Linked DNA regions of Homo sapiens: all the other regions are linked to region 1. Evidence: fine-mapped expression QTL. A gene starts in region 1. Each other region holds a variant in brackets. All regions are shown on one strand. Distances are between the middles of the regions. Region 1 holds the start of IQGAP1 (IQ motif containing GTPase activating protein 1). Region 2 overlaps IQGAP1 (IQ motif containing GTPase activating protein 1). Region 3 overlaps CRTC3 (CREB regulated transcription coactivator 3).

Evidence for each region. PIP is the estimated chance that this variant, and not a neighbour inherited with it, causes the effect.
Region 2: its variant is fine-mapped to the expression of IQGAP1 in whole blood (TOPMed, PIP above 0.99). The same link has a PIP of 0.9 or more in blood mononuclear cells, cerebellar hemisphere, cerebellum, esophagus muscle, hippocampus and nucleus accumbens.
Region 3: its variant is fine-mapped to the expression of IQGAP1 in cerebral cortex (GTEx, PIP 0.96).

What each region holds. Positions count from the first base shown.
Region 1 is chr15:90,385,044-90,393,223 of GRCh38, reverse strand. It overlaps IQGAP1 (IQ motif containing GTPase activating protein 1), which reads right to left and starts at 4,982. Exons shown (of 38, transcript NM_003870.4): 1 at 4,828-4,982; 2 at 2,351-2,450. The coding sequence starts at 4,882. It also overlaps the pseudogene NDUFA3P4. RefSeq lists a silencer at 4,479-5,258.
Region 2 is chr15:90,435,287-90,443,466 of GRCh38, reverse strand. It overlaps IQGAP1 (IQ motif containing GTPase activating protein 1), which reads right to left. Exons shown (of 38, transcript NM_003870.4): 6 at 4,068-4,135; 7 at 2,852-2,965; 8 at 1,783-1,961; 9 at 1-73. Among named protein-coding and RNA genes, the nearest start is that of IQGAP1, 51 kb to the right of the region's middle. RefSeq lists a silencer at 6,203-6,403. The variant T/C (reference allele first, on the strand shown) is at 3,234.
Region 3 is chr15:90,642,060-90,650,217 of GRCh38, reverse strand. CRTC3 (CREB regulated transcription coactivator 3) reads right to left here. Exons shown (of 15, transcript NM_022769.5): 15 at 4,873-8,158. The coding sequence ends at 8,078. All of the region lies in intron 2 of CRTC3-AS1 (CRTC3 antisense RNA 1), which reads left to right. Among named protein-coding and RNA genes, the nearest start is that of LINC01585, 14 kb to the left of the region's middle. RefSeq lists a silencer at 3,431-3,614. The variant A/G (reference allele first, on the strand shown) is at 4,461.

The DNA.
Region 1 (8,180 bases):
TGGAACCAAACCCCCACAGATACCAAGGGACTACTATGTGTCTGGATCTCCCACCCCGACCTACTGAACCACAATCTCTATGGTAGGGCCCAGATAGGTGTATTTTTTTTTTTTTTTAAGTTCCCCAGGTGATTCTAATGCACACACCTGGTTAACAACCATAGTTAAAAAAATGATGAGGCCAGGCACAGCAGCTCACGTTTGTAATTCCAGCACTTTGGGAGGCTGAGACGGGCGGATCACCTGAGGTCAGGAGTTTGAGACCAGCCTGGCCATTATGGTGAAACCCAGTCTCTACTAAAGATACAAAAATTAGCCAGGCGTAGTGGCGGATGCCTGTAATTCCAGCTACTCAGGAGGCTGAGGCAGGAGAATCGCTTGAACCCGGGAGGTGGAGGTTGCAATGAGCCAAGATTGCGCCACTGCCCTCCAGCCTGGGCAACAGAGCGAGACTGTACAAAAAAAAAAAAAAAAAGATAGAAACATTCTTCAATCAAGAAAACTACAAGTAGACCAAAAAACTCAGGCTTCAGTTTCTTCATTAAATGAGATGGTTGAACTAGATTAGCAGTTGAACTAGTTATTGGTAGTGTTTGGGGGAGGGGAGGTGTTAGCCAAAACACCCTCTGTAACAAGTGAATTTTATTCAAGAAATTCAACAGTAAAACAAAAGCAGAGCTACTTTGGATGGGGGAAGGAAGGTGTGTTGAAGCTCTTCCCTCTCACCCCCAGGTCACCTCAGTGGAATCACCAAAGCTCCACAGAGCACAAGATGGTCTCTCAGAACAGCTGCAGCTTCCAAATTCTTTGACCTTCCAAACCTTGAAATCCACAATTTAAATGGCAGAGATCTTACAGTTTTTGTTTTCTTATAAACTTCATATGAGAAAATGCCCCCTTTTCTAGTGATATAGCATGCCTTGCTATGTCATCTTCTATTATTTAGAAAGACAAGTGTTATCCTCCTCACTTAAGTCATCACTGAAACCCAAGCTCCAGTTTCCTGGAAGTTTTAAGCTCAGAAAAGAAGCCTAGACACAAGAGGGCATGCAAAATACAGGTTAGTGTTTGCCCCAGGAGAAGGAAGAATGGGACCAGAGGGGCACAAAAAAGACTTTAAATGTAGCGATGTTGGTTTTGTTTTGTTTTGTTTTTAGAGGAAAGGGAAATATCTCAAATGTTAACATTTGTTAGTTCTGGAATACAATGATGTTTGTTGTACTGTTCTCTGGACTTTCTTGTAGCATTTTAAGATTTTCAGAATTAAAATACACACATACACACACACTTGTTTATTAGCACCACTTCAAACACCCTTTTTATTAAACGTTAATTACAAATATTTCATTATCCCTCACTTGACTTTTCCACCAAAGCTCACTTATAGAATACATGATCTATAATTACATCTACCCTGGGACTCTGCAAAAGAACACAAGCACCAGAACAAAAGAAATGAATCACTGATAACAAAATGACACTCTAAAATTAAGACCACAAGGTTGTGGGGCATCTGAAAAAGGAAAAGAGCAGCTTTACATTCACTTCACAAAGAATGCAGAGGATGCTGACTCTGAATATTGCCAAACAGATGGACCTACACCAACAGCACCACGCTTCTAAGCCTCCCAAACCAAGCAGCCACTCCGCAGGTCATAGGAGGAGGAGACTCAATTCATATATAAATCAAAATTCATGAAGCATAAGTGAAACATTAAAGCCAATAACTTCAAATCCTAAAAATGCTATTTCCACCCCACAGTTGGTAACGCCCAAAACATGCACAATAAGCATAAGACTGAACAATAGAAACCTGGAAAACCGTTCAGTACACTTAAATGCCCATCACAGTGATTCATGATAAACTCTCATCAAGGCTACTTATTGCCATAAATAAATACCCTACCTATACTTATTCCCTCAACCACCAGCTTCCCAGTTACATCTATAACATACTCAAATAAATCTTTTCTTTTTTTTCCCCCCACCAAAAACAGGAGTTTTGTCACCCAGGCTAGAGCACAGTGGTGAGAGCACGGCTCACTGCTGCCTCGACCTCCCGGACTCAAGTGATCCTCCCTCCTCAGGCTCCCGAGTAGCTAGGACTACTGGCATGCACCACCATGCCTGGCTAATTTTTAAAATTTTTTTGTAGAGATGGGGTGTCACTATGTTGCCCAATCTGGTCTCAAACAGCTGGGTTCAAGTGATTCCCCCCCACCTCGGCCTCCCAACGTGTTGGGATTACAGGCATGGACCACTGTGTTCAGCCTCAAAGCAATCTTTATTTGTATTCACACTATTATCAGTTCCCTTCTCTTAATCTTCTCTCCAGCCAGCCAATCTTTACCTCTTCGCTTCTTCCAAATGACAAAGGTACTCATAAGCCACGTTCTGACGTCTCCTTTCATCCATCTCCTCTGCAGTAAGTCTTTCATTATCCAGGACAGCTACAACATAAAAGAAAGAATGTAAACACCAGGATCTGTAGCCTTCCTGAGTGATAAAAGATTGCCACAGAATCAATTTCCTGCCACTCACCTAGAAAGTCAGGATAACTAATGAGTGTGTAGCCAGCCAGGTGTACTACAATGACTTTCTTAAAAAAAGAACTATGTGGTTTCAACTATAATCATCTTGACCTTTTTAAAAATGTATGATAATATAAATATGTACTAAGTTTCAGTGTAATCTTGAAAAATACTGTCTTGAGATTTTGGCACAAATCTGTCCCTATCTGCCAGAACTCCTTCTAAATACAGATCTGATAATATTGTTTCCCTCTTTTATTAATGACCAAAGCCAGCAGTTATTGAGACATAAGTGGCAGTAATTGTACGAAGCATTTTACACGCATTCTCTCATTGAAACCCCACAACAATCCTGTGATTATCACTCCTATTTTACAGACGAAGAAACTGAGGCTGGGTGAACTCAGCCCCATGGCAAATAAGTGACAGGGCCTGAATCCAAACCTGGAGAGTCTGTCTCCAAAGCCTGAGCTTAACCTTGAAGCAATCTGCTTCCTTCATGGGCACCAGGTGTGGAATAAATTCCTAACTCCTTGGGAAGGCATTCAAGGCCTTTCCCAGTCTGGTCCCAACTATTTTTGGAAACTCTCCTCTTCCCTTCCTCCCACCACTGTGCAGTCTACATCACTCAGTTCCCAACACAGTATCCCTCTACTTTCAATACCTTTGTTTATGCTCTTCCCTCAGGTCCTGTCTCTTGTTCCACATGCCCTATCAAACTTTTTTTTTTTTTTTTTTGAGACAGGGTCTTGTTCTGTCACTCCGGCTCGAGTGCAGTGGCACAATCATGGCTTACTGCAGCCTCGACTTTCTGGGCTCAAATGATCCTCCTACCTCAGCCCCAAGCAGCTGGGACCACAGGCATGGGCCACCACGCCTGGCTAATTTTTTTTTTTTTTTTTAAGAGATGGAGTCTCACTGTGCTGCCCAGGCTGGTCTCAAACTCAAGGCCTCAAACTATCCTCTCACCTCGGACTCCCAAAGTGCTGGGATTACACGCAGGAGTCACTATGCCTGGCCACCTGTCAAACTTTCTACACAGCATTCTTCAAGGCTCTGTTCAAATGTCACCTTCAGGCCAGGTGCAGTGGCTCACACTTTGGGAGGTCGAGGCGTGGGGATCATTTGAGATCAGGAGTTTGAGACCAGCCTGACCAACACAGTGAAACCCTGTCTCTACTAAAAATACAAAAATTAGCCAGTGTGGTGGCCGACGCCTGTACTCGGGAGACTGCAGGAGAATCGCTTGAACCTGGGAGGTGGAGTTTGCAGTGAGCTGAGATTGCACCACTGAACTCCAGGCTGGGCGACCAGAGCAAGACCCCCTGTCTCCAAAAAAAAAAAAAAAAAAGTCACCTCCCGTGCTCATACTGTCTTCCCCAGGCCCCTTCTCCTTACCTACATTACTCTGTATGGCTAGTAAGTTCAGCATCTTTTATCATTATTGCACCTTATAATCATTAGCTTGCACACCTGACTCTCTGATTAAAACGCTCTTTGGAGACAGGGCCTGATCTTACTCATCTTTAATTTCACAAACGTGGCACAATACCTCACGTATAACTGTTGATGCGTGAAATGTTGATCCTTTAAAAAAGAACATTATTCCCACAATATAAAATAAAACCGAAAACCTCAAAATCCCAAAGGGTCCTCCTTTAGCCAATCCTGCCTGCAGTTCAATGACGTCCAGGGCCGACAACAGAAAATGAGGAAGTCAGAGGATTTTCTGCTTCTTTTTTTTTTCTTTATTACTATTTTACTTTTGAAATCTTGAGGAGGGAACTAAGCCCGAGAAAACTGAAGTGACTTGCCCAGGACGGCACCTCGTAGCTAGCCTGGGACCGGACAGGTCTGGACCCTGGTCTATCCCTTGGGTCTACCCCGCAGGCAACACTAGGGCAGCGCCTTTCCACGAAACGGGCAGAGCCCGCGTACCCAGACCCCCAATCCCCGGGACACGCCCTGCGCGGTCATCCTGCCACCTCACTCTAGGCCGTCTTCCCCAATCTCGGCCGAGCCTGGGCGGCGAGAGGCGCTGGGTGGGGCTCCCCCTACCGCGGCCCCAGCTAAGGCGGGAGGCCTCGGGGGTCCTCTCCGCCGCCTCGGACCCCGAGGGGGCGCGAACCAGGGGCCTCCCCGCCCGCCGCCCGCCGCCCCACCGGGACGGCTCTTCCGGGTCCGAGCTGCCGGCAGCCGCCCTGCCCCACCCGCCCGGCCGAGCCCCCAGGAAAATCGCGCCTCGTCTGCAATTAGCCCAGCCCGAAGCCCCCGCGCCGCGGAGCCCCGCACTCACAGCCATAGTGCGGCCGGGCCACGCCCAGCCCGTCAACCTCGTCTGCGGCGGACATGGCGGACGAGCCCGAGTCTCTGCTGAGGAAGCCGTGAAACCTTGGAGGCGCGGACGGCGGTAGCTACAGCTCCTGCCAAGTGCGCGGGCTTGCCGGGGTCCCCGAGGCCCCGCCCCGTGCCGTCAGCCCCACCCCGCAGGCCCCGCCCCAGCGGCACCGCCCCAGCGACACCGCCCTGAGCGGCCGGAAAGAGGCGGGGCCAGAGTCACCGTGCCCCGCCCCTAACTCCGCCCCCTCAGCCCGGCCCCGCCCTGCATCCCGCTATGGTCTCCGTAGGCGGAAGGAAGAAGGTAGAGCCCATCCTCCAATCGGGCTCACGCTGAGCTTGCCCTGCCGGGAATGCCCGCCCAGGTTTATAGCCCCGCCCCCAAGGCCACTGCCCTATCCGCAACTCTAACCGAAAGGCTGCCGGTGTCTGCTGCCTGAAATCAAAATAGTGGGTCATCTCCCTTCTCTTGCCGGCCCAGCTAACCTCTGCACCAATATTTGGAGAAGACACCCTTTGAGGTGACCCAGGTTGTCTTGTTGGACACAAGCAGGCCCCAAACTGCCATGAAAGCCCTCCAACCCCACTCTCCGCAGTTTGGCAACCTGGCCTCAGTCCTCTTAGATTCGGCAGCAGTCACCAGATTACCCAGGTACCCAGGTATTTGAGATGCGGATGCTAAAGCCGAACTCTGTCCAAATTCCCTACCTTTGGATCCCTTGACATTGTTCTTTGCAAGTTCTTTTTAAAATAACTCTTTTCCCGTATCAGGGATGCCTCTGCCCCCTGCACCTTGTGGCTTGCCCTTCAGATATTGGTATTCAACGGTATTCTGTCCGCAGCCCTCTTCTGTTTATTCTTTTTTCTTTTCTTTCTTTCTTTTTTTTTATTTTCTTTTTTTTTTGAGACGGAGTCTCGCTCTGTCGCCCAGGCTGGAGTGCAGTGGCGCGATCCGGGCTCACTGCAAGCTCCGCCTCCCGGGTTCGCGCCATTCTCCTGCCTCAGCCTCCCGAGTAGCTGAGTCTACAGGCACCCGCCACCGCGCCCGGCTAAGTTTTTGTATTTTTAGTAGAGACGGGGTTTCACCGTGTTAGCCAGGATGGTCTCGATCTCCTGACCTCGTGATCCACCCGCCTCGGCCTCCCACAGTGCTGGGATTACAGGCGTGAGCCACCGCGCCCGGCATTTTTTTTTTTTTTTTTTTTTTGAGACGGAGTTTTGCTCAGTCGTTCAGGCTGGAGTGCAGTGGCGCGATCTCGGCTCACTGCAACCTCCGCCTCCCGGGTTCAAGCGACTCTCCCGCCTCAGCCTCCCAAGTAGCTGGGATTATAGGTGCCCGCCACCACGCCCAACTACTTTTTTTGTATTTTTAGTAGAGGCAGGGTTTCACCATGTTGATCAGGCTGGTCTCGAACTCCTGACCTCAGGTAATCCACCCGCTTCTGCTTCCCAAAGTGCTGAGATTACAGGTGTGAGCCACCGCGCCCGGCCCTCTTCCGTTTATTCTTTGCCTACTCAGTAATCTTTTCTACACTCGCCTATAACTGCTGAGGACCCCTCGATATGTATCACCAGACCAGATCGTCTGGAAGTCCCTCAGTATTTTCAGCTAATGAACACTTTCACCTGTGTATAGGGCAGACACTTCAAATCCCACGTGTCAAATACTGACCCTGCTCCTGCTATATTCTCTATTCACAGAAGTACTCAATTCCCAGTGGGAACACCCCAGGCTCCTTGCCTCGCACCCTACATCCAATCTGTGTTTATTTCTGAGATGTCTACTTTTGTCTCCATCCCTGTTGTGATTACACTGTAGTCGCCCTTCTGCCAACTAGATCCTCACAGTTATCAGGGTGTTCTCTCTAAAGTGCAAATGCAATTGTGTTTCTCTTTTTAAATTTTTTTTTCTATTCCTCCCTTCAAGATAATGGGCCAAGTTCAGCATGATTTAGCATGCCAAATCATAGCCTGACTCCAGATGTTTTGCTCCAGCTATTTTCAATGTATTCACTCTTCCTTCAGACTATTAAAGATACTTGAAAACCTGTAAGAACAAAACACCCCTGTAGAAAAGTGGGCAAGGGTTTCATTTATTAAGCCTACAAAGTAAAAAGTTATTTCATTCTTAAGCTTTTAAGTTCACTTTACAAATTGTATTATTCTATTTATAAGTCTAGCACATTTTACCAAACACTTTTCAGAAACTGAATGATTTATTTATTTCGGAGGCGGGGGGGTCACATTTTTATTGGGGGCCACAGGGGACATGGTCTTCTCCATGTCAATGGAAGTGCTTGCAGTTTCTTCAACCACTCCATGCTTGGGCCTTGGGGGTGGCTGGGCATGTCCAGCATGTTCCCATCATCTCGGAGGGGCACTGGGTTGTTGTGGGGCGTGGCCTAGTTGATCCTGGTGGAGTACATGGTATAGGGGCAGACTGGGGTCAGATTTATAGCTAGGCCCCCGATGGTGAGGAACAGGACCAGCACCCGCTCCTTAGGCCAGGCATTCTTGAGAAAGGCAGCCGCAATGGCAACGAGGACATAGAGCATTCTGAAATTTCCTGAAAATTTTTTTTTAAGTCTCACTCAGTTAATTCAACATCTTCAAATATTTAAAATTATGCCTACTAGGGCAGGCACAGTGGCTCACACCTGTAATCCGAGCACTTTGGGAGGTCAAGGTGGGTGGATCACCTTAGGTCAGGAGTTCGAGAGCAGCCTGGCCAACATGGTGAAACCCCCGTCTCTACTAAAATACAAAAAAATTAGCTTAGTATGGTGACACACGCCTGTAGTCCCAGCTACTCGGGAGGCTAAGGCAGGAGAATCACTTGAACCCAGGAGGCAGAGGTTGCAGTGAGCCGAGATTGTGCTCCTGCAATCCAGCCTGGTTGACGGAGCGAGACTGTCTTTTAAAAAATAATAATAATTGCCGGGCACGGTGGCTCACGCCTGTAATCCTAGCACTTTCGGAGGCCGAGGTGGGCGAATCACGAGGTCAGGATATTGAGACCATCCAGGCTAACACGGTGAAACCCCAGCTCTATTAAAAACACAAAAAAAAAAAAAATTAGCCGGGCATGGTGGCGGGCACCTGTATTCCAGCTACTCGGGAGGCTGAGGCAGGAGAATGGCGTGAACCCTGGAGGCGGAGCTTGCAGTGAGCCAAGATCATGCCTCTGCACTCTAGCCTAGGCAATAGAGCGAGACTCCATCTCAAAAAAATAAATAAATAAAAATAAAAAATAATAATAAAGAATAAATTGTGCCTATTATATTGTCTATATTAGATTTCCTATTACATTTT
Region 2 (8,180 bases), 50 kb before region 1:
TTATATTGCCTTGAATTTCAGCTTGCGTGAGCAGCTCCTCATAAACATCTCTTTCTCTCTCTGAGTTTTCTGTCTGAGGATGAGTAAAAAGCGTAATTAAGTTAGCTTAAGGTGTCTAAGAAGACCACATAAATACACGTGTGCTCCTCCTGCACCATAACACTACCAAGAATATGGGTGTAGCTTAAGACCCTTTATAAAGAACAAAGCAGGCACAGTAACTCATGCCTGTAATCCCAGTGCTTTGGAAGGCCAAGGTGGGAAGATGGCTTGAAGCCAAGAGTTTGAGATCAGCCTGGGCAACATAGCGAGACCCCATCTCTACAAAAAACTTTTTTTTATTAGCCCAATGTGGTGGCACATGCCTGTAGTCCCAGCTACTCAGGAGGCTGTGACAGTAAGATTGCTTTCCCCAGAAGTTCAAGGCTGCAGTGAGTTATGACCGTGCCACTGCACTCCAGCCTAGGTGACTGAGCGAGATTCTGTCTTTTTTTTGAGACAGAGTCTCACTCTGTCACCCAGGCTGCAGTGCAATGGCACCATCTTGGCTCATTAAAAACTCTGCCTCCTGGGTTCACGTGATTCTCTTGCTTCAGCCTCCTGAGTAGCTGGGACTACAGGCGTGCACCATCATGCCCAGTTAATTTTTTTGGTATTTTTAGTAGAGATAGGGTTTCACCATATTGGCCAGGCTGGTCTCAAACTCCTAACCTCAAGTGATCTGCCCGCCTTGGCCTCCCAAAGTGCTGGGATTAGGGGCAGCACATCCTTGCCTCAGATCTGAGCAGAATGGGCACATACAGATCCACAATCCTGGAGTCTCACTGGTGACATAGGCAGAGGCAGGGCAGCAGCTACTTGCCTGCAGGCCAGTTTGGCACCTAACTGGGAAACTGAAATCCCTGCTCTATGATAAGAGATACAAAGAATGTTCTGAGAGCAGGATTGTCTTCGTTTTGTCATCAACCACTAATTTTAACAAGGGGTGGATAAATTTGTGTGAAGTTTTTTTTTTCCCCCCCGAGACGGAGTCTCGCCCTGTCTCCTGGCTGGTGCAGTCTTGGCTCACTGCAGCCTCCACCTCCCAGGTTCAATAGATTCTGCTGCCTCAGCCTCCCAAGTACCTGGGATTACAGGAGCCCAACACAACGCTGGGCTAATTTTTGACTTTTAGTATAGATGGGATTTCGCCATGTTGGCCAGGCTGGTCTCAAACTCCTGACCTCGGGAAATGAGATCCTCAGATTCAGTTTTTTCAAGTCAGAATCATTTAACTAACTTCCACATACCCATAACAACTGTACACAAACATTTTACCCCAGAGAATCTGGGAAAGAGGAAAGACTATGTTAATATTTAGAGATAATCTTTCCAAAGGGCACTATTAATTTTAATGGCTACGCTCTAGAATTTTATTTATATAAAATTCAAGAAGCAGAGGTCAAAATGGAGCCTCACACCAAAAGATTAGATACTGCATCATTCCATTTGTATAAAATTCTTAAAAAGGTCAATGGCAGCAATAGAAAATAGACTGGTAGTTGCCTGGGCTCAGGGGTGTGGGTAAGGTGGAAACTAATTGCAAAAGTGCACTAAGGAACTTTCTGGGAGTGATGGTTAAATGATCACATATACTTTTCAAAACTCAAACTGTACATTTAAAATCCGGTGAATTTTGTTGTATGTAAACTGCATCTCAATAAAACTGATGTTTAAACTGGAGCCATATCAAATGACGGAATAATATAAATTAATTAGAAAGAATAGATGTTGCATTTTTACCCTGTTTTTAGCATTTGTCATTTTGTCCTGCTTAGCCTGGTAAAGTATATCCTGGTAAGTGGATGCCAAGGGCTCTTCAAGATTTACAAGCATGGCATTCGGATTTTTCAAAGCTGCAAATGTGTCGGCTGGAATTCTACGGTCAATAGCTTCATTAATAGCAATAACAGCAGCATGTACTAAAAAAAAAAACAAAAAAACAAACCAACAAAAACACTGAGATTATATAGATTACAGGATGTATATCACAACAGAAAGCAACATTGCACCCCCCATTAGAGACAGAGGCTCCTTTTCACAGAGAAATAACAACTGGGGTTCGAAGACTGGCTCCCTGGGCCAGGCTATGAGCCTAGCCTCTTCCTTACAGTATGCAAAGCCACAGCTCCATCTGTGATCCATGTCTGGGATGGTGAATTTAGAATCTCACAGAGAAACACTCATAAGAGAGCCTTGCAAGGAACACTTGCTCTGGAGATATCTGCCTTAATTACCAAGTAAACACCATAAAACAATAAGAAACTCAATGAGCCACGGAAATGTAGGACTTCCTTTCTTTTTTTTTCTTTTTTTTTTTGAGACAGAGTTTCACTCTTGTTGCCCAGTCTGGAGTGCAATGGCATGATCTCGGCTCACTGCAACCTCTGCCTCTTGGGTTCAAGTGATTCTCCTGCCTCAGCCTCCCGAGTAGCTGGGATTACAGGTGCACACCACCATGCCCGGCTAAATTTTTGTATTTTTAGTAGAGACGGGGTTTCACCATGGCCAGGCTGGTCTTGAACTCCTGACCTCAGGTGATCCACCCGCCTTGGCCTCCCGAAGTGCTGGGATTACAGGCGTGAGCCACCACGCCCAGCCAGGACTTCCTTTCTAAATGCTTTCACTTTAATCAGAATTAATCATGTATTTCCAAATAATAACAGCATGGAAGACTATGTGTTTACAACTACATCTGTGGACTTAAACTTGCTGGCAAGATTCATAATGTCCTAGATCATCACTATAGAATTAATTATTGGAAATAGTGGCAACAATCCCAGTTGAACCCACAAAATTTCTCTCTTCTTACATGCGGCTTCATCCACTGACAGTTCATTAGCCAAGATGCCCCCAATCTTGCTAAAGGCAGGCATCTGGATGCCATACTTCTCCAACTCAGTCTTCATGTTGTTGATTTCTTCTTCTACAGGAGGGAATTAATAATCAGTCAATCAAGCTAAGCACCCTTCCATAACCAAGAGAAGGAAACATATTCCTCAACTATGCAATGGGATAAAATGGCATTTACCTTTTAGGGTTTTATAAGGATATAAAGATACAATGTATGGAAAGCACTTAACACAGTAACTAGTATATAAAATGTAGTCAAACGTTATTATTATCAAGGGCATCAAAAATAACTATAAAGTGAGAAGGTCCTACAGGAAATAGTTTTTCAAAATTGCTACTTA[T/C]GGCATTTCCTACAATGAACTTATAAATGGAACAGCTTTAACGTGAGCTCAACAATAAGTGAATCACAAACTAAGTCAGTTATCTCAGTCTTTACAATCATTAGCTGCTATTCAACAATTTCATTTCTAAGGCAGAAAGCCAAATGATAAAGAAAACATGTAAGGTCTGGTCCTTTCCCCAGGTCTGGTGAATAACTTCCCTGGAAGGAAAAAATATCATGGACAAAAACTTTCTTACCAATTTTTAAACTTTCAAGCCTACAAAATAATCACCACTTTGAAAGACTTGAATCTATCTTACCCTTAAACAGTATTACCACTGCCCTTTTTCTCCCCAACCCCTCATCTCTTCAAGCATCTGGCTATAGCAAATACACATAGAAACACCCACCCAAATAAGCTTAAATTTTAAAATTACTAAATTGGCATCTTTGTGTCATCTCACTCCCCACTCTCCCTCTTGCTTTGCCCACAACAGATGCTTGCTGGAATGGAAAGGGAAAGATAGTTATAAAGCTTTTTTCAACATACCCGAACATTTAGTGTTATGTGTTAACATTATTATGTTTTATATATGTTAATGTTATCCCCAATTTACATATAAGAAAACTGAGACTCACTAATCATGTTCACATTATTAAGTGAGAGAACAGAGCTTGAAATTTCAAGTTTAGTGTTCTTTACCCCACATTAGAGAAGCAAGTTATTCGTATTTTTTTCACCTCCACTGCCAGTGTATTTTTAAAGCCCTAGGTCTTCAAAATTGGTACTGCTGGCTCTCCAGGCTATTTCCACATAATTCAAGCATTTCCTGCCAAGTATCTAACTCCTTACCTGTGAAGTCAACCTTTCCATATAGGTCTTGAATCTGAGGGGCCAGGCCTAGCTTGAACAGGTACAAACTAGAAGATACAATATGCAAAAGGTTAGGCCTCCCAGCTGTGCCTAGCTGCCACCCTTAAAAGGCGAAAATCAGCATGAAGTATAAAATAGAAGTATTCTGAACACTGAGACTCCCAGTACCTACGACAGTCTCCTTTGTAGTTACAATACGCTATTTACCTCAGTTTTTTTTTTTTAGTTTACATGACAACATTGTCCTAAAAAGTCACATAACACAATGCAAAGAGCACTGGACTGGGAGAAATCAGTAGGCACAAATTAAAGTCCCGGTTCTGGCACAAACTCAATGCATAATTAGATGTTAATGGCCAGGCACAGTGGCTCATGCCTGTAATCCCAGCACTTTGGGAGGCTGAGGTGGGCGGATCACCTGACATCAGGAGCTTGAGACCAGCCTGGCCAACATGACAAAACCCTGTCTCTACTAAAAATACAAAAATTAGCCAGGCGTGGTGGCATGTGCCTGTAATCCCAGCTATTCAGGAGGCTGAGGCAGGAGAATTGCTTGAACCTGGGAGGCAAAGGCTGCAGTGAGCCGAGATCACACCACTGTACTCCAGCCTGGGCAACAGTGTGAGATTCCGTTTCAAAAAAAAAAAAGATGTTAACATTAATGTTAATATAATGTGAAGTGTCTCTTCATTTGTTTGCCTTCCTGTAATCAATAAGTTTTAAATAATAAGACATTTTAGAAAAGCTTCATAAAAATGATTCAGATGGCAAATCTTACTTAAACTGAATTCATATTACTGATGGAAAAGTTTAATCCAGGTAATTTAACAGTTTTAGATAAAGAATATTTCATATATTTTTACTTTTTAATTATCAGGTTGGTGAAAATTATTTTTACTTTTTAAACTTAAAAAAAAATCAACTAGACTCTAAGCTTCATGAAAGCAGGGACAATACAGGGCTCATTCACTAATGTTTACCCAGAGCCTAGCATATATTAATAAACATTAATCAATATTTGACAGATGGATGGACGGATAAATTAATGTCCATAAGCCTGTGTTATTAAGTGGATTCTAAAGCCCTAACTGATCAGAATCAATAAATTAGAAGAGATCAGAAGGGTACTTTACAGATACTGACAAAAGCAAGATATTGACAGTTTAAAGTAAGCAGGGAAATAAGAAATATATAAGAAATAAATCATAGAAACTTAAAGTGGTATACAGTTTTTGTAAATAATCTATAAACCTCAATATCATCTAAATACAAACACGCATCATGTACACTGCAATCACAGAACTGATCAAAATTTAAATTGTATATAATAAACCCAAATGTATAATAGAAAAACAAAAATCAAGTATTCTCAAAACACACTAGAATTTATACATCCACAGAAGCTAAACATTTTCTCAGAGAAGTGCAAGTATAAGTCATGTGTATATGATTAAATGCTTTTCTTTCAGGTAAAAGACTCAAGATGGATATATAAAGCGCCTGTCTCAGAAGATTTTAAATGTATTCAAAAAATTCTCCAGACTGGGTGTAGTGGCTCACACCTGTAATTCCAGTACTTTGAGAAAGAGAGGCAGGAGGATAGCTTGAGGTCAGGAATTCAAAACAGCTTGAGCAACATAGCAAGACTTGTCTCTACAAAAAAAATTTCTTAATTAGCCAGGTATGGTGGTGCATGCCTGTAGTCCTAGCCATTTGGGAGGCTAAGGCAGGAGGATAGCTTGTGCCTGGGAGGTTGTTACAATGAGTCAAGATCACACCTCTGCGTTCCAGCCTAGGCAAAAGAGTAAGACCCTGCCTCTTTAAAAAAGAAATTCCAAAGCAAAATAACTAATAACTTTCTATATATTTTTATACATTTTTATATATTTTTTATATATTTTTCTCACTAATACATCACATCTGCATTCTTAATTAAGAGAATATTTTTCTCCAAGAATTTCTTTCTCATTTATTCCTACTTGGAAATAGCGAACAAGAAATTTTAAGAAAGTTCAAGAATGTTGCTGATATGGTTTGGGTCTGTGTCCCTGTCCAAATCTCATGTCAAATTGTAATCCCCAGGTGGGGGCCTGGTGAGAGGTGATTGGATCAATGGGGGCAGGTTTCCCCCTTGGTGCTGTTCTCCTAACAGTGAGTGAGTTATCGCTAGATTTGGTTTTTTAAAAGTATGTAAGCACCTCCCCACCTCTCTCTTCCTCTTGTTCCTGCCACGTGAGACGTGACTGCTTCCTCTTTGTCTTCTACCATGATTGTAAGTTTCCTGAGGAGGTCTCCCCAGCCATGCTTCTTGTACAGGCTGTGGAACCTTAAGCCAGTTAAACCTCTTTTCTTTATGAATTACCCAGTCTCAGGTATTTCTTTATAGCAGTACAAGAACGGACTAATACAGTTGCTTTCACAGTACCAGGAACACTGACTTAGCTTTTAATGTCTTTCAGTGGTAAATTAAAGGTGCTACAACCGTATCACTGGCTAATATAAAAAGTAGACATGGGCACCATCTTTCTTTTAACTCTCTTTAATTATTACGAGTATTTTATGGAGACACTGGAGCTATGAAAGGATTCAAAACGGCCAGTTAAGTCCTCTTACCCACAATCAAAAGTACTTAGCTTCACACTGAAACTTATAAACCCTAATGGTGAACAGCACTTTCCAATCTTTGCTCCTGCTCTCCCATGCCTACTTCTACAAATATACTGTTAGGCACTATAATGCGTCAGCCTGTAACTGCACTTAGATTTATTTTTCTTATTTCCTACTTAAGCTGTACTTTGTAGCAATGGGCAGAAGGAAGCTATGTTAATCTATCTGGATTCTAATTATCTTTTCTGTGAATGGTGAGTAACCTAGAAGTCACTATGCCAATCTCAAAGATTATTAATAAAGACCCTGAAACACAGCAGGTGATTAGGAAACAGAATCTACTACAGGTCCACAGTCCCTTATCCAAATTCTTGGAGCCAGATATGTCTGAATATTGAATTTCTCAGATATTAGAAAGTGTATTTCTATTTACAGTGTATATGGTATCATAAAGTATCCCCAGCAAGCCCTGGGGCAGCATCCTCAATCCAATCCATTACTTTCTGCAGAGAAACACACAAACATAATCATACTAAGGAGACAAATGAGCTTACACCAAACTTAGTATACAAGTATTTTGAGAATGGAAAACTGGGGTCTTATCTGAGAGTGGAATGTTATCTACAAAAGTAATTTAGTATGATTAAAGTACAGTGACTATCTCTGGAATAATGCCAATCAAGACTTTAGAGGAAAAAAAAAAAAAAAGGCAAGCAGGGAGGAGACAGAGAGGTAGTATTTTTCTGTCACTGTTGATCCAAAGGGAGATGGAGCCTTATCCAATATAGCAAGGTGAGGAACCTGCTTTGAACATGGCTGTGTTTTGTGGTAAAAGAAGGCACTTTCAGCAATTATAAATACTTCCTACATATTATCAAATGTTGCCAATCCACCCTTCAGGAAAAACACCATAAAAAAGAAACCATAAATCACGAAACACACTGCTCTATATATACTTTCTAAGCACAGACTACATATTCAAGAGAAATGGAAAACAATAGCAGACTTCCTCTCTTTCTCATTCTGACTCTACCACTAGGAAGGCATAGTTAATTCTTTAGGCTCTACTACAGAGAATTTGAGGGCCTGGAACCCAGGTTACACTGCAGAGTAGTGGCTACACAACTAGCAGAGAGGAATTCTGCTTCCACGTTCAGATATCCATTGCAGGTAAGGCCTTCACAAGATTATCAACATGGACAAATCTCATGCAACACTAAGCCAAACAAAATACTCAGAATTAATCTGATCTGGACTCAGACACACATATTTGGTAATGTTTTGTTTTGTTTTTTAGAGACAGAGTCTCGCTCTGTCATCCAGGCTGAAGTGCAGTAGCACAATCATAGCTCACTGCAGTCTCAAACTCCTCGGCTTAAGTGATCCTCCCACCTCAGCCTCCAGAGTAGCTAGGACTACAGGTGAATGCCACCATGCCTAGCTAATTTTTTATTTCTTGTAGAAATGGGGTCTCGCTACGTTGCC
Region 3 (8,158 bases), 260 kb before region 1:
AAGTGGTGGTGAGCTCATTTCCTTATCCTAAATCGTAGGTTGTCAAGAGATGCCATCTATAGTTGAAACATGCTGAAAGAATGAATCCAGCTGCTTAATATTTTTCTTTCCTTTAGAGAAATAATTTAGAACCAGAAGAAGCAGCGTCATTATTTGCAGCTTGGTAATTTCTTTAGTTACATTTAAGTTGCCTTTTGTTCTGTTAAATTTAAGTATGGCACTTTTTCTAAAAAGAGTATGTATTGTATGAGCCCATTTTGGTTAAAAAAACTCCTTTGAATATGTGCGTAGAGAGATGTCTCCATCCATGTTTCCTGGGTGTCAGCCATGATTATTTCTGGGGTGCTGGATTTCCGGACCACTTGAAATTTTTGTTTTTGGTACTCTTCGGTGTTACTTGAATTTCTTATAATGAGCATGCACTATTTTTATCAGAGCAAAGCTTTTTTAAAAAATTAAAATACATGTCTGGAAAAGAGAGAGAGAAAAAAAAAACACGTGTTCCTTTGCCAGGCTTCTATCTCACTGGGATCCGTGGGGACCCTTCCCAGAGGGGCTGCTCAGAGCCCACCTCTGCAGGGTGAAGGGTGCGATTCATTTCCGCACCCCTCACCCTGGTGATGGGCGTAGTCGGGGGCCGGGGGTGCACAGGGGAGGGAAACTTGTGAGCAGATCCTGAAGGATGCACTTTGGAGCCCTGGGTTCTGGGCTGGTGAGGTCAGGAGGCCTTGATGTGAGGCCCACTGGGTCCAGGCTTTGTGCCTTCACTGTTTAGTTGGGTGACAGAGCCTCTATGGGCCTGTTTCCTCTTCTGTAAACTCAAGAAGTCATCCTTGGCTAGGGGCAGTGGTTCACGCCTGTAATCCCGGCACTTTGGGAGGCCGAGGCAGGTGGATCACCCGAGGTCAAGAGTTTGAGACCAGCCTGGCCAACATGGTGAAACGCTATCTCTACGAAAAATACAAAAATCAGCCAGGTGTGCTGGCACATGCCTGTAATCCCAGCTACTCGGGAGGCTGAGGCAGGAGAATCACTTGAACGCGGGAGGCGGAGGTTGCAGTGAGCGAAGATCACACCACTGCACTCCAGCCTGGGCGACGGAACGAGACTCTGTCTCGGAAAAAAAAAAAAAAAAAAAAAAGAAGTCCTCCATGCCCTGCCTCGTTTTCAGGTTGATGTGAGGGATGTGTGTGGTGCTGTCACAGGGTTCAGCCTGGGAGGCCACATGGATTCCTGGCTTCATGCAGGAATTCAAAAGTAAGCTGACAAAGTGATAGCAAGTTTATTAAGAAAGTAAATGAATAAAAAAGGGGCTACCCCAGCAGCACGGGCTGCTCGACTCAGTAGACTTATGGTTATTTCTTGATCATACGGTAAATAAGGAGTGGATTATTTATGAGTTTTCCAGGAATGGGGTGGGAATTTCCTGGAACTGAGGGTTCCTCTTCCTTTTCGACCATATAGGGTAATTTCCGTACGTTGCCATGGCACTTGTGAACTGTCACGCGCTGCTGGGAGTGTCTTTTAGCAACTAATGTATTATAGTTAGTGAATAATGAACAGTGAGGACAACCAGAGGTCACTTTCGTCATCATCTTGGTTTTGGCGGGTTCTGGCAGTTTCTTTATTGCATCCTGTTTTATCAGTGTGATCTTTGTGATCTGTATCTTGTGCCTATCTCCTGTCTCCTCCTGTGACTTTGAATGCCTAACCTCCGGGGAATGCAGCCCAGCAGGTCTCAGCCTCATTTTACCCACAGCCCCTGTTCAAGATGGAGTCACTCTGGTTTGAATGCTTCTGACGGTGCAGTGTCTGGTAGTCTGGGTGGTCACTAAGGATACTTATTACTCCATATCATACAATTCAATTCTAGCCAACACCACTGCCAGCCCAGTTCAAGGGCTAAAGTTGAGGGGGTCCGGGGCTCTCTGTCCTGTTCTGGGTCCTAAGAGCCACTCTTATAGTTGCAGCTCCACCTAGTGTCCACATGAGGACATAGCAGCATATAGCTGGTTTATTGTAAACCCCAATTTCCATACCTGCCTACCATACAGCTTTATTAGGTAAAATGGACCAAAAAGATCTTTTTTTATTTTTATTTTTAATTTTTTTTGAGACAGAGTCTCGCTCTGTCACCCAGGTTGGAGTGCAGTGGTGTGATCTCTGCTCACTGCAACCTCTGCCTGCTGGGTTCAAGCAATTCTCCTGCCTCAGCCTCCCCAGTAGCTGGAATGACAGACGCCCACCCGGATAATTTTTGTATTTTTGGTAGAGATGGGGTTTCACCATGTTGTCTAGGCTGGTCTCGAACTCCTGACCTCAGGTGATCCTCCGGCTTCAGCCTCCCAAAGTGCTGGGATTACAGTCATGAGCCACTGTGCCTGGCCCAAAATAAGATCTAAAATCATTCCTTCCAGATCGAAAATTTAGTATTTCAAAACAAGTATACAAATTCAGTACTTTTCAAGATTAAAGTATCCTGTGTTTGAAAAGATGGCACAGGAGGAGGGGTGAGGAGAAGGAGGGGTGTGGAGGAGGAGGGGTGAGGAGGAGGAGGGGTGAGGAGGAGGGGTGTGGAGGATGAGGAGGGGTGTGAAGGGGGAGGGGGAGGGGTGTGAAGGGGGAGGGATGTGGAGCAGGAGGGTTGAGGAGGAGGGATGTGGAGAGGAGAAGGGGTGAGGAGGAGGGGGGTGAGGCGGAGGAGGGGTGTGGAGGATGAGGAGGGGTGTGGAGGAGGAGGGGTGAGGGAGGTGTGAGGCGGAGGAGGGGTGTGGAGGAGGAGGGGTGTGGTGGAGGAGAAGGGGTGAGGGGGAGGGGTGTGGAGGAGGATTGTGGAGGAGGAGGGGTGTGGAGGAGGATTGAGGAGGAGGGGTGTGGAGGAGGATTGTGGAGGAGGAGGGGTGTGGAGGAGGATTGTGGAGGAGGAGGGGTGTGGAGGAGGATTGAGGAGGAGGGGTGTGGAGGAGGATTGAGGAGGAGGGGTGTGGAGGAGGATTGTGGAGGAGGAGGGGTGTGGAGGAGGATTGTGGAGGAGCAGTGGGTGTAGAGGTGGAGGAGGGCTGTGGAATTTGGAGGGGTGTGGAGGAGAAGGAGGGCTTTGGAGGAGGGGTTGGAGGAGGAGGGGTGTGGAATAAGAGGAGGATTGTGGAGGAGGAGGGGTGAGGAGGAGGGTTGAGGAGGAGGAGGATTGTAGAGGGGGAGTGGGTGTGGAGGAGTTGGGGTGTGCAGGAGGAGGAGAGGTGAGGAAGAGGAGGTGTTTGGAGGACACCTGGTCTCCAGCTCCATGGCGGTGATGGGGGCTGAGCTCCAAGAGAAGGAAGCTGCTGTCAACAGTTCGGAAGAATTTGCGGATTTTTCGAGCCCCTACTGTGTGCCAGGTGCTGGGGAAGTGGCATACAAGTAAACATGCCCCTGTGCTTGCAGAGTTTGGAGCCCTGTGGGGAAGCTGGATGTCAATTGCAGGTGGACCCGGATCTCCAGAAAACAAGGGGTGGGGTGGGCATGAGCACTGGCTGATAGGCAGGTGGGGAGAGGGCTAAGTATGAGGGTCGTCTGCTTGGAGGGCTGGAGAAGTTGGTTTGGGAGGTCGATGGAAAGAAGATGATGGTGGAGGGGGAGGATGATAGGAGACAGGCATGGCCTGGGTGGTAGAATATGCAGAAAAGCCTTACTGGAGCCAGAGAGGATTTCGGAGGGGAGAGAGTGGCCAAAGGGTCAGGATGCGGCTGACATCAGAGGGCCTTGGACAGAGGCAGGAGAGTAGGGAATCCTGGAGGGCTCCCTGGGGCTGCGGGCAGAAGGAGGCTGAGCAGGAGTGCTCCTCCAGGAGAGGCAGGACACAGGGCTGTGGCATGAGGGGTAGCCGGCGGGGAAAGGAGAGTTTTCTGTTTGTTCTGAGGAAGGAGACTGGGCATCTTCACAGGCTGATGGGGAGGTGCCATCAGAGAGGGCTAAGTAGAAGGCCCTAGAACATCAGCAAGTCCTTGCGGAAGGTCAGGTTGACGTGGAAACAGGACCTCGTAAGGCATAGGGACGCTGGGGAAGGCGCGACGGGCCATGGGACGGAATGGGGAGCAGCTGGGACACGGCGGGAGCTGGCCCAGGTGGCCTGGATGGGAGGCAAGAAGGCCTCATGTGGTCTGATGAGCCTTGAGGAGAGGAGGGCGTGGGTGCCCCACGTGGCAGGAGAGGGCTGGGTCAGCACAGCCTGGAAGTGCTGGTTCTTCCCGCAGGGCTCCCAGCAACAGAAAGCTCAGCCCGAGTGACGTGGTGGCAGGTCTTGAGGAGGAAGAGTGGCGTGGTGGCAGGAGAAGGGGCCTGGGGGTGCCACGGAGGCCACGAGCCAGGTGGGCCCGGGCAGAAGCAAGGGAAGCTAGGAGAGGACGGGCAGGCTGAGAAGAGGGGACACGGAAGAATTCTCAGTGCGGTCAAAGAACAGGGTGTGTGTAGACCAGAGTGGA[A/G]ATGGGGGCTCAGGAAGTTAAAGTCAGAAACAGGATTTCCAGGTAGGATTTCAGGAGACAGTCACCTTTATGACAAGTGCTAGATGTGGCTGTTCGCGTTGAACCCTGCTGGGATGGGGGTCTGGGGAAGGGACAGGGCTAGAGGCCAACCCAGGACAGAGTATCTGGTGGAGGAAGGGCCGTGGGCAGGGGTGTGGAGCGGGTGCTGGCTGTGGGGGCAGGAGACCCAGCTGCCTCCAGCTAAGGGAACTGAGTGCCCCTTCACGTATCACAAGAAGGCCTGACCCACAGCTGGTACAGGGCCTGCCTTGCCAAGGCTCCAAATCCTAGCTGCAGGCTGAGCCGTGCAGGAGGCGGTGAGATTAAGGCTCCCCACCAACCCCTCACCCAAGTGAAGAAAAACACCACCAAATGCAGAGACAACCTCATTGTGATGCTTTTAATTACAAAAGATGTAAAATGATGCATTATAAAACTTGGAAGCAACTTTATACAAATTCCAATTTTTAAATATGGTTGAACAGGGTGCCCTGGGGGTTAGGACACTGGCAGGAAGTCTGATTAGTTGCTGGGATGGTCCCATCCATGAAGCACTGGACACATGCTGGGAACCATCTGTGCATAAATCAGAAGAGCCAACAAGAGTGGGAACAGGAAAGGTCTGCAAATACGCATATGGACTTGAAGATACAACACCAGCTCAGGTAATATACAGCAGGCGGAGGAGAAATGAAACAGGAGAAACAGGACAAAGGAGAATTCATGACATGATCAAGAAACCCCTTCTCCTAACCCCCTATGTCCTAAAACCCACAACCATACAGAAAGAAAAAATGGAAATGCAGACAGGTTTTTAGTTCTATGCTGTTTAACTGCTGTAAGTGAGAGTAGTACAATGGTCGATTTCTTGTGACAAAACTAAATAATGAAAAATAGTTTACTCTGAAGTATGCAGCTGCTTCAAATGCTGAGGACCACAACTGGTTTTGTTACAAAGGCCGCAGTGAGTGCAGGCTCACGTGCTGTGGGCCAGGGCGACCCTGCCCGTGGTGAGTCCTCCACACCTTCTAGGCAGAGTGGGTTGTACGATGCCCAAAACCTTTCACAAGAAAAGATCGGACTCACTCATAGACCTAAGGACAAATTGAATTCAGTGCTAAACCATATTGCCCCCAGTGTACACCCCCAATAAATCACTTCCCCGGAGGTCTGTTTTCACAAGTCACCTGGAGAACGCCTTTGGGGCAGTAGGGTTCACTGTGTAGGTCTTGGGGTCTCTGTTGCCAGGCAGGGTGGCTGCTGTGCAGACAAACTGAACTGGGACCCGGATATGACGATACCCATGGGTAAGGCACTATGTGAAGAGTGACTATGCTGAGACCTCTGTTTTATAAAAACACAATTCTTGAAACATCAGCACCATCGCCTGTTGAGAGTGAGATCAGGTTTGGAAGCCCTTTGACACAGGAGCTGGTTTCTTTTGGCACATGGGGTGCTGGGTAGCATTGCGACTGAAGGCTCTTTAACAAAAAGCCACCCCCTCTGAGATCTTGAGCACAAAGGGATCTGAAAGTGTAACTGGGAACAGGGCAGGCCAGCAGGCCCTTCCTGAGCTGGAAATCAGGCGAGGAGGACTCTGGTTTGATTTCCCAATTCCACAGCAAAGATTTGGGGCAAATGTGAAACAGGAATACTTGGATTCCAGAGGAAGGTGGAGGGGCACCCCATGAGGGTTATTTTAAAGATGAGAGGCAAGGTCAGAAGATAGAAATGGAATGAGGTCGGGAGAGGCTAACCAGCCCAGGGTCTTGTGACCACGACTCCTTTTACATAAGGGACAGGTGTGCCAGATTCAGACCCTCATTGTACAGCCTTGCTCCTCTGGGTGGAACAGTCCAGCAACCCTCAGTACACTCCAGGGTCTCCTGGAAGGGCAATGGCTGTCCAAGCAAAGGTCCTGGCATCTTCCGTCTCTCCTTCAGGGTTCTCCTCCTCTCCACCCTGTCCTCTCACAGCCTAGACCCCCCCCTCCCCCTGCAGTGCTCTGCCCCCTTCAAACCTACTGGCATCACCCAAGTTAGAGGAGGCAGGCGGTGGTGGAAATCTGGCCCATCTATTTTATGAGAAGGTATTGATGACTAATGATGCTTCCATGAATTAGGCCTTCGTTTTACTATAAACTATTTTTTCAACCTCAAAGAATGAATCTCTACTTGAAGCAATTTAGAGCCAAACGTGGATCTGAGAAGGAAGATCTTCCTGGGTGGGGCCCAGCCAGGATGCTCAGGGCACTCACCTGCTCAGCCCTTCCGGATGTACTCAGAAGACAGCTCCCACCCACCCGCGTGGAGCACAGCCCAAGGAGAATGCAGTGCCCGGCTTCACTGTGATTTGGTCACCTAGTGTTAAAAGCATATTAAAGTGCATGCTTCACCATAGGCACGAGTGCTAGAAAAGCTAAAGCTCTGAGAAGATCTGGCAGGGAAGGGGATAGCTACAGGTGAGCCTGCCTTACGGCATGGCGGACGCACTCATTCATCATGCGCTGCACGCACGGTTCTGCAGCACTCACTCCAGCACACGACTGTGCTGCCACGCACGTGTTAGGTGCTACGGGTTCAACAATGATAAGGCACTGTCCCTGCCCTCAAGGAGCTTACGGTCTAGGGGGGTGACATTAGACTCCCAGCCCACAGAGACACAGCTCTGGGGAGGGATGGGGAAGCTCAGTTGCTCGGTGGGTGGGGTTAGGGCCTCACCAGCTCCCTCTGGCTGCTCTTAGTGGGGAGGTCTGTGCTTGTCTGGAGTTTGTCTGGAGGCCACTGAGTATGAGACACCTGCAGTCCCTGTCTTCCTTCCCCAGCCCCCGAGGAGGAGCACAGTTCTCTTCAGGCTCATCAGTGCCAGGGGACTCTTTTCAGTGACTGATAAAATGGTCTTCCTCTTCCTCTGGTCCATAAGGAAAAGGTGTACTTTTCTGAAGCAGCAGAAACCAGCTGGGAGAAAATGAAAATTAGCCTTCAGTCTGCCTAACTCAAGCCTGCCCTCGGGCTTGTGGTAAAAACTTCATGTCGTAATCCAGGCGTGGGAGAGAGCCGTGGGGTCCACTCAGCCTGGGAATGTCCCCCGCTGGAGGGCCTCGCCCTCTGGGTCAGGTCAGAGCAGGCATCGAGGTGCCCTCTCCGGTGCCGCCGCCCCAGGCCGAGCCTCCCACTCCGGGCCCGCCTTCGGTGCGGACGGAGATCAGTGGTTCTGAGCACACTACACAATGCTACGGAGGCCTCCAGTGACACAGTATTTCCTACTCTTACACATCGGCTGACTGGATGGCCAGTAAAAAGATGCAGTGGAGGTGAGCTTTCCAGTTCATGGGAAGCTCCAAGCAGCCTGCCTGCTGCAACACGACTTTGGCCACAGGCGGGAGAGGCAGTACAAAGCTGTGTGATCTGGAGGAAGCCACAGTGTCTGAGATGGGATCTCATCTGAAACCCTGGAGCCGTGGCATTGCTTCCTTCTATGTCAAGATAACGAAAGCCCGTGGTATCAGCTGGCTTCATTCTATTCCATTCTATTTTGGCTGTTGCAGAAAAACATTCTTCTGTTCCACTGCCTTCTGTTCACAGTCTGTCAGCTCGAAACGTCTCTTCAACAGAGGGGTCCAGCAGGCCCATGCTGGAGTCACTTAACATGTTGAGTCC